Regions from separate parts of the Homo sapiens genome. Here all the other regions are linked to region 1. The links come from fine-mapping of genetic effects on gene expression. A gene starts in region 1. Each other region holds a variant in brackets. All regions are shown on one strand. Distances are between the middles of the regions.

Region 1 (5,310 bases):
CTCTAGTTTGGTGATATCCAAATCAATTGATCAGGAAGCTAAGGACACCAGGGCTGCAGGACTTCCTTTGGATTAATTCAGTAAATATGTATTGAGGTCCTACTTTGTGCAAGACAAAATACCACATACCACATACAGCCTCCATGAGTTATTTATTTCAGAGTCTGGCTCTGTCGTCCAGGCTGCAGTGCAGTGGCGAGATCTCCGTTCACTGCAGCCTCTGACTTCCGGGTTTCAAGCTATTCTCTTGCCTCAGCCTCCTGAGTAGCTGGGATTATAGGCATGTGCCATCATGCCTGGCTAATTTTGTATTTTTAGTAGAGACAGGGTTTCGCCATGTTGGCCAGGCTGATCTCGAACACCTGACCTCAAGTGATCTGCCTTGGCCTCCCAAAGTGCTGGGATTACATCCTTATTTAAAGGCATATCTTGTCTATCCATGCTTTTCAGACCAGACTTGGCTCTTTGCATGGATCCTGCTGGCAGTTTCCTGTATGTTCCTATCCAGTGAGAAGCTGTTTTTGGCCTCACACCAGGCTGTAGGGGCCAGATAGTGACGTCAGATCTATCCAGAGCACCAGCCAACTTAAGGCAGGTTCCTGGGCTAAGGGGCTGGGGCTTTCTCTGTGGAGGGGGAGAGAGGAGGAGAAAGGGGAATGGATGGTAAGGAGAGATGTGGGTCTCTGAATCACATGGAGACTCTGGAAGTGCTGACCATCTTCTACACACCACATTCTCATATCATCCTTGGTTAATAATCATAACAACAGTATGAAGCACATGGTACTGTTTAACTGCATTTTACAGATAAGGAGACTGGCTAGTGATCCACTCAAGGTCACAGAGTAAGTGGTGGTCATGGGATTTTAATTTCCTCTCTAGGTCTTTTTTTTTTAATTTTTTTTTTTTTTAAGACAGAGTTTCGCTCTTGTTGCCCAGGCTGGAGTGCAATGGAACGATCTCGGCTCCTTCCAACCTCTGCCTCCCGGGTTCAAGCGATTCTCCTGCCTCAGCCTCCCGAGTAGCTGAGATTACAGGCATGTGCCACCACGCCCGGCTAATTTTGTATTTTTAGTAGAGACGGGGTTTCCTCCATGTTGGTCAAGCTGGTCTCGAACTCCCGACCTCAGGTGATCCGCCCGCCTCAGCCTCTCAAAGTGCTGGGATTACAGGCATGAGCCACCACACCCGGCCTCCTCTCTAGGTCTTTAAAAGCCTTCCACCTCACGCCTGTAATTCCAGCATTTTTGGAGGCCGAGGTGGGCGGATCATGAGATCAAGAGATCAAGACCACCCTGGCCAACATGGTGAAACCGCCTCTTTACTAAAAACAGAAAAATTACGGGGCGTGGCGGCACGCGCCTGTAATCCCAGCTACTTGGGAGGCGGAGGCAGGAGAATTGCTTGAACGCGGGAGGCGGAGGTTGCACTGAGCCGAGATTCGAGCCAGTGCACTCCGCCACTGCACTCCAGCCTAGGTGACAGAGAGAGACTTCTTCTCAAAAAAAAAAAAAAAAGGCCTTCCACCACCGCGCAAAGGGACCCAGTAGGATTTCAGGTCCAGAGTGAATCATACTATGCCCTCCACTCCCACATTTTTACACGACGAAATCTGTCTAGCATGTACAACTAATAAAAATAGTAGAGGGAAAAGAGGTCATGGATAGGCAATTTATAGCCAGACAGGTGGGAGTGTAGGTTTTGGCTCCACCATTTTTTATTTTCTTGATGAGGAGCCCTTTAGGTCATTTTAGAAATAGTGTCACTGCCTGCCTTCCCGAGTCTTTGCCACACCAAAGACTTGTTTCCTCCGCTAGACAAAAATATGGATGGCTGTCCCAGTTCTGTCTCAAACAATGATCGTGTAGAATCAAATAAGGCCCTCTGTAAACTATAGCACTTTACAAACTGGTAAGGTAGCAGCCATCCTTCCAAGGTATCAGGGAACAGCGAAGCAGCTGATTAAAATAGTCTTGATTACTTGAGATACAGGAGGGTAGGAATAACATGTGGTAACTGAACTCTATAGATACTATCTAAAATCGCATTCTAACAGGCAAGTTTAATCTTTCTGAGATTTGCCTCTTTGTAGAGCTCTAAAAAATAAAAGGAGAGGGGCGTAAAATGCCAGTAAGATTAGTTAAATTTCTTCTCCTTTTGAGCCCTGCCCATAGGTAGATGGAATTAGGGCAGAACAAAAACATTAAGAATAAAAGCCCGAACGAGATGCGCGTACAGGTGAACACAAGTGAACACTGGGGTAAGGAAATGAGTTATGCGGAAAAGGCTTCAGACCATCCCTGGGAACTGCTCCGGGTCTGGACATTTCCTTTGGCAACCTTCCAGAGTCTGAGTCCCCAGGGCTCCCCCCGGCGGGAAAGGAAAGGCGCGCGTGGCTAGGCGCGCGCGTACACGGGCACTCACGTGTACACACACACGCGCGCACACTACACATACACACAGGGCCCATTTCCTCCGCTCCCTCCCCGCGGGGGGCGGGTCTCTTTCTCTTTAAAGAGCAGACGGTCTCCGCGCACACCCAGGCTCTCAAGGCCTCGGGGGCCCGGGACCCGAGCTGCTCGTAGCCAATGGGAGCAGTGGAGCGGCTCGAGCGCGGCTGACGCTGCACCAATGGGCGATCGTGGGGGGCGGGGGCAGCAGAGGAGACACTATTGTTGATGAGGAGCGGCGGCGGCGGCGGCGGCGGCTGCACCACCTCGTTGCTGCCTGCCCCGGCCCGGTCTCCCCCTGCACCCCGGAGTCCGGCTTCGTCACCCCGTCTTGGGGGGCCTGCCCTCCGGCCTCGAGAATCCTCCCCCTGCAGCCCAACAACAACAAAACCCCCCGTCTCGCCCAGTCACCGGGGAGGGGGGGGACCATGTCCCAGCGGGTGAGGCGCAATGGGTCCCCCACGCCGGCCGGCTCCCTTGGGGGTGGTGCGGTGGCCACGGCCGGGGGACCCGGGAGCCGCTTGCAGCCCATGAGGGCGACGGTTCCGTTCCAGCTGAAGCAGCAGCAGCAGCAGCAACATGGCAGCCCCACGCGGAGCGGCGGCGGCGGCGGCGGCAACAACAACGGTGGCTGCTGTGGTGGCGCCTCAGGCCCCGCAGGCGGCGGCGGCGGCGGTGGCCCGCGCACCGCCTCGCGCAGCACCAGCCCCACGCGCGGCGGCGGGAACGCGGCCGCGCGCACCAGCCCCACGGTGGCCACGCAGACGGGCGCGTCCGCGACGTCCACGCGAGGCACCAGCCCCACGCGCAGCGCCGCGCCTGGAGCTCGCGGGAGCCCCCCACGGCCGCCGCCGCCGCCGCCGCTGCTGGGCACCGTGTCGTCGCCCAGCTCGTCGCCCACCCACCTGTGGACCGGCGAGGTGAGCGCGGCCCCACCCCCAGCCCGCGTCCGGCATCGGAGGAGGTCTCCGGAGCAGAGCCGAAGCTCGCCGGAGAAGAGGAGCCCCAGCGCCCCGGTTTGCAAAGCAGGTAAGTGCTGGGGGTCGCGCAGCAAGGGGGAGGCGGCTGCGGGAAGGGGTCCCGGGCGCGCGCTGCAATCGCGCGGGGACTGCAGAGCTGCCGCGGAGCCCGGGTGGCTGGGGGCGGGGCTGGGGGCGGTGCCGGGCGGTGGGGGACCCGGCAGTGCGGCCCCGCCTTTCCCGGGCCTACCCTACGCCCCGCCCGCCCGCCCGCCTCATTCACCCCTCTGCCCGCCCCGCACGGCTCCCTGGTGGTGGAGGTGCAGCGGCTAAACCTTGGGCTTGAGCTGATGAGTGTTAATGATAAACCTGGCTTCCTGGCCTTACTCCTGGAGGAGTCGTTACTGCTTACCCTCCCTTGAGGGTGAGGCTAGGAGTGGTTTGTCACTTTGTTTTAGGGACAAGGTTAATGTTGGCATAGCCCATATCTGCTGCTGCTAAGTATTTCTGTTCACAAAACAGTTTCAGATCTGGGGTACTGAATGCATTAGCAGTGGCAGATTTGGATCACTGAACAGAGGAGGCTGAGAACCGTGTTTTAGCATTTCCTAAGACTTGATAAATGGGTAGCAAGAAGTGAAAATTAAACAAGATTCCTTAGGAAGGTTTATGGGTTTTGTCTGAGGCTCTGGGTGTATTTCTGATTTTGTGTACTGATTCTGTGTTTTGAATGTAGAAAAACAGAATCCAGTGTTTTGTCTCCATCTTGTTATTGTTTTAGGGAGCTAACATTCGTTGTTTTTCTGTTTACCTGGAAGCTTTCTTGGGGAAGGTCCTGAATGGAGCTGTTGGGTGCCAATGGAGTCATTCATAAAGAGTAACTCAAAAGAGAAATTCAAATTGTGGGAAGTGGAAAGGAATAAAATTTATAATCTTGTTGCCTTAAGGAAAGAAATGGGTGGTTTTTACTTACGTATTCATTTTTGTCAACATATATCTTTGTCTTTCCTTGTCTGGGGAACTTCTGTTAGAATTTTCCAGGCAGAATGGTTGGGAATTTCAGGAAACAAATTCAGATGAAATAGTTTCCGAAATGGAAGGAATAGGATGACTCTTTCTTACTATTTATTTTATGAAAGTTTTAGATAATACTTATTTAGAGAGAATTGCCCTGGAAAATGATGAATAGTATTTTCTTTTTTTGAGACAGAGTTTCTGTTGCCCAGGCTGGAGTGCAGTTACACGATCTCGGCTTACTGCAGCCTCCAACTCCCGGGTTCAAACGATTCTGCCTCAGTCTCCTGAGTAGCTGGGATTACAGGCGACCGCCACCATGCCCGGCTAATTTTTGTATTTTTAGTAGAGACAGGGTTTCACCATGTTGGCCAGGCTGGTCTCGAACTCCTGACCTCAGGTGAAACGCCCGCCTTGGCTTCCCAGAATGCTGGGATTACAGGCATGCGCCACTGCGCCCGGCCCGAATAGTGTTTTCTAATTAGAACCAGAGCACTGTTTTATTTATGTATTTATTTTTATTTATATTTTTATTTATTTTTTGAGACGGAGTCTTGCTCAGCTGCCCAGGCTGGAGTGCAGTTATGTGATCTCGGCTCACTGCAACCATGGTCTCCTGGGTTCAAGCGATTCTCCTATCTCAGCCTCCCGAGTAGCTGGGATTACAGGCACCCGCCATCATGCCCGGCTAATTTTTGTATTTTAGTAGAGATGGGGTTTCACCATGTTTGCCAGGATGGTTTGGAACTCCTGACCTTATGTGATCTGCCCGCCTTGGCCTCCCAAAGTGCTAGGATTGCCCAGCCCAGAGCACTATTTTAAACCTTTTGAGAATGCAGAATGCTTTTCTAAAACTGTGATAAAAGTACTAGATTTCCCCTCCCTGC
Region 2 (5,310 bases), 110 kb after region 1:
CAGGAAGTTCAAAGATCCCCAAATAGATTTAACCCAAAAAGGTCTTCTCCAAGTCATATTATAGTCAAACTGTCAAAAGTCAAAGACAGAATTCCAAAAACAAGAGAGAAGTGTCAAGTCACATGTAAGAGAATCCCCGTCTGTCTTAGTTCGTTTGTGTTTCTGTAAAAGAATACCCAAGGCTGGTTTATTTATAAAGGTAAGGGTTTTATTTGGCTTGTGGTTCTGTAGACTGTCCAGAACCTCAGACTGCATCCACTCATGGCGGAAGGTGAAGGGGAGCCAGTGTGTGCAGAGATAACATATCAAGTGAGGAAGCAAGAGAGATAGAGGCATGGTGCCAGACTCTTTTTAACCTCCAGCTATTGCAGGAACTAACGGAGTGAATTCACTTCTTCCCTAGAGAAAAGTATTAATCTATTCATGAGAAATCTGCCTCCATGTCCCAAACACTTCCCGTTACGCCCCACCTTCAATATTGTGCATCAGATTTCAACATGAGGTTTGGAGGAACAAACATCCCAATGATAGCACCATCAGACTAATAGTAAGTTTTTCAGCCAAAACTTTACAGGCCAGGAGAGAATGGGATGATATATTCAAAGTGCTGAAAGAAAAAAGACTGCTAGCCAAAAATATTTTACCCAGGAATAATATCCTTCAAAAATAAAGGAAAGTTGGCTGGGCATGGTGGCTCACGCTTGTAAATCCCAGCACTTTGGGAGTACAAGGTGGGCAGATCACCTGAGATCAGGAGTTCGAGATCAGCCTGGCCAACATGGCAAAACCCCATCTCTACTAAAAATACAAAAAAAATTAGCTGGGCATGGTGGCAGGTTCCTGTAATCCCAGCTACTCGGGAGTCTGAGACAAGAGAATCACTTGAACCCGGGAGGCAGAGGTTGCAATGAGCCAAGATTGCGCCACTGCACTCCAGCCTGGGTGATAGAGTGAGACTCTGTCTCAAAAAAAAAAAAAAAAAAAAAAAGGCTGGGCATGGTCTTTCATGCCTGTAATCCTAGCACTTTGGGAGGCTGAGGCAGGCAGATCTTGTGGTCAGGAGTTTGAGACCAGCCTGGCCAACATGACAAAACCCTGTCTCTACTAAAAATACAAAAATTAACTGGGCGTGGTGGTGCACTCCTGTAGTCCCAGCTACTCAGGTGGCTGAGGCATGAGAATCTCTTGAACCCAGGAGGCAGAGGTTGCAGTGAGTGGAGATTGTGTCACTGCACTCCATCTTGAGTGACAGAGTGAGACTCTGTGTCAAAAAAAAAAAAAAGGCAAAATAAGTCTTTTCTAGACAGGCAAGAACTGAGGGAATTAATCACCACTAGGTCAGCCCTACAAGGAATACTTAAGCAAGTCCTACATCTGGAAATGAAAGGAGGATATCTACCATCATGAAAACACACAGACATGTAAAATTCACTGGTTGAGCAGACATAAATCAGAAAGAGAAAGTCAAATATTATCACTACAAGAAGCCCACCACATCTAAAGGTAAACAATAAAAGAGGAAGAAAGGAACAAAGGATATACAAAACAATCAAAAAAACAATTAAAGTGACTGACAGGAGTAAGTTCTTACCTATCAACAACAACCTTGAATGTAAATGGCTTTAATTAGAAGATGTAGACTGGCTGAATGGGTAATAAAATAAGAACCATTAGTATGCTGCCTGCAAGAAACTCACTTCCCCTGTAAAAACACATATTGATTTAAAGTGAAGGGATGGAAAAGGCTATTCCACGCAAATGGAAACCAAAAGTATGCAGGATTCGCTGTATTTGTATAACACAAAATAGACATCAAGTCAAAAACCAAAAAGACAAAGAAGGTTATTATATGTAATGATAAAGGGATTAATTCAGCAAGAGGATATAACAATTGTAAATATATATGCACCTTACACCAGAGCACCAAGTGTATAATGCAAACAGTGTTAGAGCTTAAAGAGAGAAATAGACCCCAATGCAATAATAGTTGGAGACTTCAAGACCTCACTTTCAGCATCAAACAGATCATCTATATAGAAAGTCAAGAAAGAAACATTGCACTTAATCTGCACTGTAGGTCAAATTGAACTAATAG[A/G]CATTTACAGAATTTTTCATCCAATAGCTACAGAATACACATACACATATCAGCACATGGAACATTCTCCAGGATAGACCATATGTTAGGCCCCAAAACATATCTCAACAAATTTTTAAATATTGAAGTTATCAAGTATCTTCTCATACCACAGACTAGAACTAGGAATCACAGACTAGAACTAGGAATCAGTAACAAGAAGGAAATTTGGAAACTGTGCAGATACATGGAAGTTAACATGCTCCTCAATGACCATTGGTCAATGAAGAAATAAAGGAAATAAAAAAAAATTTCTTGAAGCAAATGAAAATGCAAGTACAACATACCAAAACCTATGAGATACAGTATAAGAATTGCTAAGAGGAAAGTATATACCAATAAATGCCTCCATTAAAAAAAAAGATTTCAAATAAACAATCTGAAGAGTGTACCTCAAGGAACTAGAAAAGTAAGAACAAACCAAACCGAAAAGTATTAGAAGAAAGATTATTAAAGATAAGCGTGAACAACTATACACTAACAAATTGGAAAACCTAGAGGAAATGGGTAATTTCATTGACACATACAGCCTACCAAGATTGAACCAGGAAATAGTAGAAAACCTGAACAAACCATGTTACTGGTTATGAGATTGAATCAGTAATAAAAATTGTCCCAACAAAGAAAAGCCCAGAACTAAATGGTTTTACTGCTGAATTTTAACAGACATAAAATAGAACTAGCACCAGTTCTTCTCAAACTATTGCAAACAATTATAGAGGAAGGAGTTTCTCCTAACTCATTTTATGAGGCCAGCATTACCCTGTACCAAAACCAGACACAGGCACAACAGCCACCACCGGAAAAAAAAACAAAACAAAAAAAAACACAAAAACCCACTATGGGCCAGTATCCCTATTGAACATAGATGCAAAAATCCTGAGCAAAATACTGGCAAACCAGATCTAACAACACATCAAAAAGGTAATATAGCAAGATTAAGTGGGATTTATTCCAGTGATGCAAAGATGGTTCAACATAGACAAATCAATAAATGTGATATATCACATCAACAGAATGTAGGACAAAAACCAACAATCATTGTAATAGATACAGAAAAACCATGTGATAAAATTCAGCACTCATCCATGGTAAAAACTCTCAACAAATTAGGCATAGAAGGAAAATACCTTGACATAATAAAAGCAATAGGTGACAAACCCACAGCTAAATTGTACTGAATGGGGAAAAGCAGAAAGCCTTTCCTCTAAGAACTGAAACACGACAAGGGTGCCCATTTTCACCAGTTATTCAGTATAGTACTGGGGGTCCTAGCCAGAGCAACCAGATGAAAGAAAAAAAAGGCATCCAAACTGGAAGACAGAAAGTCAAATTTTTCTTTACAAATGACATGATCTTATATATGGAAAAACCTACCCATTCCAATTTATCTGTACATAAAATAAGAACCAAAAGACTACAAAAAAAATCACAAAACTGATAAATGAATTTACTAAAGTCGCTGGATACAAAGTCAATATATAAAAATGAGTAGTGTTTCTATACACTCACAGTGAACTAGCTAAAAAAGAAATAAAGAAAGCAATTCAGGTTACAATAGCTAAAAAAGAACAACAATAAAAAACCCTGAGAATAAATTTAACCAAGGAAATGAAAGATATCTACAACAAAAACTGCAAACACTAATGAAAGAAATTGAAGAGGACACAAATGGAAAGATATCCTATGTTCATAGGAAGAATTCATGTTGTTAAAATGACCATACTATCCAAAGCAATCTATAGATTGATTGCAATTAAAATATTAATTGTTTATGTTAAAGTACCAATGACATTCTTCACAGAAATAGAAGAAACAATCCTAAGATTTGAATGGAACCACAAAAGTCCCCAAATAGAGCCATACAAAGCAAAAAGAACAAAGCTAGAGGCATCATACTACCTGACTTCAAAATATATTACACAAAGCTATAGTCATCCAAACAGCATGGATCCACGGAACAGAATAAAGAACCCAGAAATAAATTCATGCATTTCAGCCAGCTGATTTTTCACAGAAGTGCTAAGAACATACACTGGAGGAAAGAACATCTTCAATAAATAGTGCTGGGAAAACTGATTTATGCAGAAGGATGAAAGTAGACCATTATCTCTTACCACATATAAAAATCGACCTAAAATGGATTAAAGCCTTAAAGGTAAGACCCAAAACTACAAAACTCCTGGAAGAAAACATAGGGGAAATGTTTCAGCACATTGGTCTAGGCAAAGATTTTATGGCTAGGACTACAAAAGCCTAGGTAACAAAAAAATATATACAAATGAGACTATATTAAATTTAAAAGCTTCTGTACAGCAAAGGAAACAACAGAGTGAAGAGAAAACCTGTTGAATGGAGGAAAATATTTGCAAACTATTCATCCAACAAGGAACTAACATCGAGAATCTTCAAGGAACTCAATAGCAAAAAACAACAACAACAAAGAATCCCATTAAAAAATGGGCAATCTGACTAGACATTTCTTAGAAGAGACAGATTAAATGTCTGACTAGACATTTCTCAAAAAAAGACATAGATTAAATGGCCAACAAATATATATTTTAAAAAGTTCATCTTTACTAGTCATCAGGGAAATGCAAATCAAATCCAAATCCATAATGAGATATCACCTCACCCCTGTTAGAATGGCTGTTATCAAAAAGACAAAAATTAACATATCAAAGGGATACCCTGCGCTCACATGTTTATCGTAGCCACTCTCGGTAGCCATTGTATGGAATCAACCTAAGTGCCCATCAACAGTTGAATGAATAAAGAAAAATGTGGTTGTGTGTGTGCGTGTACATGTGTATACATAACTGATGAGTATTTCATTGTGTATTCTACAATATAAAAACTGAAGGAATGAGAGCACTGGTAGTTTATGAAACTTAGCAAAGGTTTAGAAAAAATAAATCCAATTTAGAGAGTTTCATGAAACATATATATTCATAGAGTGCAGATAAAAATGTGAGGAGTAAAAATATTTTACTATTTGGTTTGGCATTATGAATCAAAGTCCTGAAAAATCTTTACTATCCTTTATGTCCCCCCAGGAAAATAGCTCCTCACCCCAGGAATTTATTCTAAGGAAGTATTTACATATGTGTGCAAATAATTGTCTAGGAGGATGTGCATGACAGTATGGTTCTGTAATAGTGAAAAATTGAAAACTA
Region 3 (5,310 bases), 79 kb after region 1:
ATACCTGTTTGTCATTTGTATGTCTTTTGAGAAATATCTATTGAGATATTTTGCCCATTTTAAATTGGATTATTAGAGTTTTGCCTATTGAGCTCCTTTTATATTTTGGCCATTAATCCCTTGTTGGATGGATAATTTGCAAATATTTTCTCCCATTCTTTGGGTTGTCTTTTTCACTCTGTTGATTGTTTCCATTACTGTGCAGAAGCTTTTAACTTGATATGACCCTATTTGTCCATTTCACTTTGGTTGCCTTTGCTTGTGGGTTATTACTCAAGAAATCTTTGCCCAGACAAACATCATGGAGAGTTTTCCCAATGTTTTCTTGTAGTAGTTTCATAGTTTGAGGTCTCAGATTTAAATCTTTAATCCATTTTGATTTCATTTTTGTATAAGGTGAGAGATAGGGTCTAGTTTCATTCTTCTGCATAAGAATAACCAGTTTCCCCAGCACCGTTTATTGAACAGACTGTCCTTTCCCCATGTATGTTCTTGGCATCTTTGTCAAAACTGAGTTCACTGTAGATGTATGGATTTATCTCTGGATTCTCTCTTCTATTCCACTGACCTCTATGTGTCTGTTTGTATGCCAATACCATGCCATTTTGGTTACTGTCATTCTGTAGTATAATTTGAAGTCAGTAATGTGATTCTTCCAGTTTTGTTCTTTTTGCTCAGGATAACTTGGGCTATTCTGGGTCTTTTGTGGATCCTTATAAATTTTAGGATTTTTTTTTCCATTTCTGTGAAGAATGTTATGGTATTTTGGTAGAGATTGCATTAAATCTGTAGATTGCTTTGGCTAGTATGAACATTTTAACAATATCTATTCTTTTAATCCATGAACATGGGATTTCTTTCTTTTTTTGTGTGTCTTTAATTTCTTCACTCAGTGTTTTACAGTTTTCAATGAAGAGATCTTTCACTTCTTTGGTTAATTCCTAGGTGTTTTATTTTATTTGTAGCTATTGTAAATGGAATTACTTTGCTGATTTCTTTTTCAGATTATTTGCTGTTGGCATATAGAAATATCACTGATTTTTGTATGTTGATTTTGTATCCTGCAACCTTGCTGAATTTATCAGCTCTCTTTTTTTTTTTTTTTTTTTTTTGTGCGTGTGGAGGCTTTAGGTGTTTCCAAATATAAGATCATATTATCTGCAAACAAGGATAATTTGACTTCTTCCATTACAGTTTGGGTGCCTATTATTTCATTCTCTTGTCCAGTTGCTCTGTCTAGCTCTTCCAGTACTATAATGAGTAACAGTGGTGAAAGTGGGCATCCTTGTCATATTCCCTATCTTACAGGAAAGGGTTTCCATTTTTCCCTATTCAATATGACACTAGCTATGGGTCTGCCATAAATGACTTGTATTATGTGGAGATATGTTCCTTCTGTACCCAGTTTTTTGAAGGTTTTTATCATGAAGAGATGTTGGATGTTATCAAATGCATTTTCAGCATCAAAATGATCATATAGTTTTTGTCTTCATTCTGTTAATGTGATATATCACACTGATTTGCATTTGTTGAACCATCCTTGCATCCCTGGGATAAATTCCATTTGGTCATAATAAATGATCTTTTTAATGTGTTGTTGAATTCAGTTTGCTAGTATTTTGTTAAATTTTGCATCAATATTCATCAGTGATATTGGCCTATAGTTTTCTTTCTTTGAAGTGTTTGGTTTTGGTAACAGGGTAATACTGGCCTCGTAGAATGAGTTTGGAAATATTCCCTCCTCTGTTTTTCAGAATAGTTTTAGTAGGATTGGTGTTAGTTCTTCTTTAAATGTTTGGTGGAATTCAGCACTGAAGCCATTGGGTCCTGGGATTTTCTTTGCCGGGGTGCTTTTTATTATGGTTTTGATTTTGTTACTTGTTATTGGTCTGTTCAGGTTTTGGATTTATTCATAGTTAAATATTGTTAGGTTGTGTGTGTCTAGGAATTTATCCATTTATTCTAGATTTTACAACGTATTGGCATATAGTTGCTCATAGTAGCCAATAATGATCCTTTGAATTTCTGTGGTATCAGTTGTAATATCTACTTTTCCCTCTCTGATTTTATTTATTTAGATCTCTCTTTTTCTCTTAGTCTGGCTAAAGATTTGTCAATTTTATCTTTTCAAAACCCACCTTTTTGTTTTGTTGATCTTTTGTATTGTTGTCTTCATGTCAAATTCATTTATTTCTGTTCTGATCTCTATTATTTTTTCTGTTAATTTTGTGTTTGGTTTGCTCCTTTCTGGTT[C/G]TTTAAGATGCATTATTAGGTTGTTTATTTCAAGTTTTTCTTGTTTTTTGATGTAGGCACTTTTAGCTGTAAAATTCCCTCTTAGTGCTACTTTCACTGTATCCCATAGATTTTGGTATGTTGTGTTTCCATTATTTTTTTTGAGAAGGAGTTTCGCTCTGTTGCTCAGGTTGGAGTGCAGTGGTGTGATCTTGGCTCACTGCAACCTCCACCTCCTGGGTTCAAACAATTCTCTTGCCTCAGCCTCCCAAGTAGCTGGGATTTCAGGCACATGCCACCATGCCCAACTAATTTTTGTATTTTTAGTAGAGATGAGGTTTCACCATGTTGGCCAGGTTGGTCTCAAACTCTCAACTTCAGGTGATCCACCTGCCTTGGCCTCCCCAAGTGCTAGGATTACAGGTGTGAGCCACTGCGCCTGGCCCTCCATTATCATTTGTTGTAAGAAATTTTTAAATTTCCTTCTTAATTTCTTCATTGACCCATTGGTCATTCAGGAGCATATTGTTTAATTTTCATTTTTTTTTATAGTTTCCAAAATTCCTCATTATTGATATCTAGTTTTATTCCACTGTGGTCAGTGAAGATGCTTGATATTATTTCAGATTTTTCAGAATGTGTTAAGACTTTTTTTTGTGACCTAACATAGTCTGTCCTTGAGAATGATCCATGTGCTGAGGAAAGAATGTGTATTCTACAGCTGTTGGTTGAAATGTTCTGCAAATATCTATTAGGTCCATTTGATTTATAGTATAGATTGAGTCTGATTTTTTTGTTGTTGATTTTATGTATAAATGAACTGTTCAGTACTGAAAGTGGGGTGGTGAAGTCTCCAGCTGTTATTGTATTGGGGTCCATCTCTATTTAGATCTAATAATATTTGCTTTATATATTTGTGTGCTCCAGTGTTGGGTGCATATATATTTACAGTTGTTATATCTTTTTTTTTTCTTTTTTTTTTTTTTTTTATTGATCATTCTTGGGTGTTTCTCGCAGAGGGGGATTTGGCAGGGTCATAGGACAATAGTGGAGGGAAGGTCAGCAGATAAACAAGTGAACAAAGGTCTCTGGTTTTCCTAGGCAGAGGACCCTGCGGCCTTCCGCAGTGTTTGTGTCCCTGGGTACTTGAGATTAGGGAGTGGTGATGACTCTTTAACTAGCATGCTGCCTTCAAGCATCTGTTTAACAAAGCACATCTTGCACCGCCCTTAATCCATTTAACCCTGAGTGGACACAGCACATGTTTCAGAGAGCACAGGGTTGGGGGTAAGGTCATAGATCAACAGGATCCCAAGGCAGAAGAATTTTTCTTAGTACAGAACAAAATGAAAAGTCTCCCATGTCTACTTCTTTCTACACAGACACAGCAACCATCCGATTTCTCAGTCTTTTCCCCACCTTTCCCCCTTTTCTATTCCACAAAACTGCCATTGTCATCATGGCCCGTTCTCAATGAGCTGTTGGGTACACCTCCCAGACGGGGTGGTGGCGGGGCAGAGGGGCTCCTCACTTCCCAGAAGGGGCAGCCGGGCAGAGGCGCCCCCCACCTCCCGGACGGGGCGGCTGGCCGGGCAGGGGCTGACCCCCCACCTCCCTCCCGGACGGGTCGGCTGGCCGGGCGGGGGCTGACCCCACACCTCCCTCCCGGACGGGGCGGCTGGCCGGGCGGGGGCTGACCCCCCACCTCCCTCCGGGACGGGGCGGCTGGCCTGGCGGGGGCTGACCCCCACCTCCCTCCCGGACGGGGTGGCTGCCGGGCGGAGACGCTCCTCACTTCCCAGACGGGGTGGCTGCCAGGCGGAGGGGCTCCTCACTTCTCAGACGGGGCGGCCGGGCAGAGACGCTCCTCACCTCCCAGACGGGGTTGCGGCCGGGCAGAGGCGCTCCTCACGTCCCAGACAGGGTGGCGGGGCAGAGGCGCTCCCCACATCTCAGACGATGGGCGGCCGGGCAGAGACGCTCCTCACTTCCTAGATGTGATGGTGGCCGGGAAGAGGCGCTCCTCACTTCCCAGACTGGGCAGCCAGGCAGAGGGGCTCCTCACATCCCAGATGATGGGCGGCCAGGCAGAGACGCTCCTCACTTCCCAGATGGCATGGCGGCCGGGCAGAGGCTGCAATCTCGGCACTTTGGGAGGCCAAGGCAGGCGGCTGGGAGGTGGAGGTTGTAGCAAGCCGAGATCAGGCCACCGCACTCCAGCCTGGGCACCATTGAGCACTGAGTGAATGAGACTCCGTCTGCAATCCCGGCACCTCGGGAGGCCGAGGCTGGCGGATCACTTGCGGTTAGGAGATGGAGACCAGCCCGGCCAACACAGCAAAACCCCGTCTCCACCAAAAAAATACGAAAACCAGTCAGGCGTGGTGGCGCGTGCCTGCAATCGCAGGCACTCGGCAGGCTGAGGCAGGAGAATCAGGCAGGGAGGTTGCAGTGAGCCGAGATGGCAGCAGTACAGTCCAGCTTTGGCTCGGCATCAGAGGGAGACCGTGGAAAGGGGAGAGGGAGAGGGAGAGGATATCTTTTTGTTGAATCGACACCTTTATCATTATGTAGTGACCTTCTTTGTCTCTTCTTACAGTTTTTGTCTTCAAATCTGTGTTGTCTAAATATAGCTACTCCTGCTCTTTTTTGGTTTCCATTTGCAAACAACATCTTTTTCCATCCCTTTTTTTTTCAGCGTATATAGTTTTTCATAAATGAAATGTGTTTCTTGTAGGCAGCAGATCATTGGGTGTGTTGTTTTTATTCATGTAGCCACTGTGTGTTTTGTTTGGAGAGTTTAGTCCATTTTCATTCAATGTTGTTATTGATGAGTGAAGACTTACTCCTGCCATTTTGTTATTTGTTTTCTGGTTGTTTTGTGGTCTTCCTTCTTTCCTTCCTTCCTGTCTTCCTTTTAGTGAAGGTGATTTTCTCTGGTGGTATGATTTATTTTCTTGCTTTTTATTTTTAGTGTATCTGTTGTTGTATGTTTTTTGATTTGAGGTTACTACAAGGCCCCGTTTGAATAAACTTTCTACCCCATCTCTTTCTTTACCTCCCTTGTAAGGCCTATAA

Alleles and levels. Positions count from the first base shown, and alleles are read on the strand shown. Sizes are in standard deviations (SD) of each study's normalised expression.
For the expression in prefrontal cortex of the gene that starts at base 2,660 in region 1, G is the low allele of the variant in region 2 and A is the other (small effect, 0.25 SD a copy in CommonMind).
In carriers of allele C in region 3, the expression in esophagus mucosa of the gene that starts at base 2,660 in region 1 tends to be higher than with G alone (small effect, 0.19 SD a copy in GTEx).

The links. PIP is the estimated chance that this variant, and not a neighbour inherited with it, causes the effect. A credible set is the group of variants that fine-mapping cannot tell apart.
Region 2: its variant is the best candidate, but not a certain one, in a credible set for the expression of FAM117B in prefrontal cortex (CommonMind, PIP 0.58).
Region 3: its variant is the best candidate, but not a certain one, in a credible set for the expression of FAM117B in esophagus mucosa (GTEx, PIP 0.68).

Annotation. Positions count from the first base shown.
Region 1 is chr2:202,632,310-202,637,619 of GRCh38, forward strand. It overlaps FAM117B (family with sequence similarity 117 member B), which reads left to right and starts at 2,660. Exons shown (of 8, transcript NM_173511.4): 1 at 2,660-3,479. The coding sequence starts at 2,879. RefSeq lists silencers at 2,698-2,927, 3,118-3,167, 3,268-3,707.
Region 2 is chr2:202,744,012-202,749,321 of GRCh38, forward strand. All of the region lies in intron 4 of FAM117B (family with sequence similarity 117 member B), which reads left to right. Among named protein-coding and RNA genes, the nearest start is that of FAM117B, 110 kb to the left of the region's middle. The variant A/G (reference allele first, on the strand shown) is at 2,096.
Region 3 is chr2:202,711,330-202,716,639 of GRCh38, forward strand. The region is part of intron 2 of FAM117B (family with sequence similarity 117 member B); the gene reads left to right. Among named protein-coding and RNA genes, the nearest start is that of FAM117B, 79 kb to the left of the region's middle. RefSeq lists an enhancer at 3,098-3,779. The variant C/G (reference allele first, on the strand shown) is at 2,254.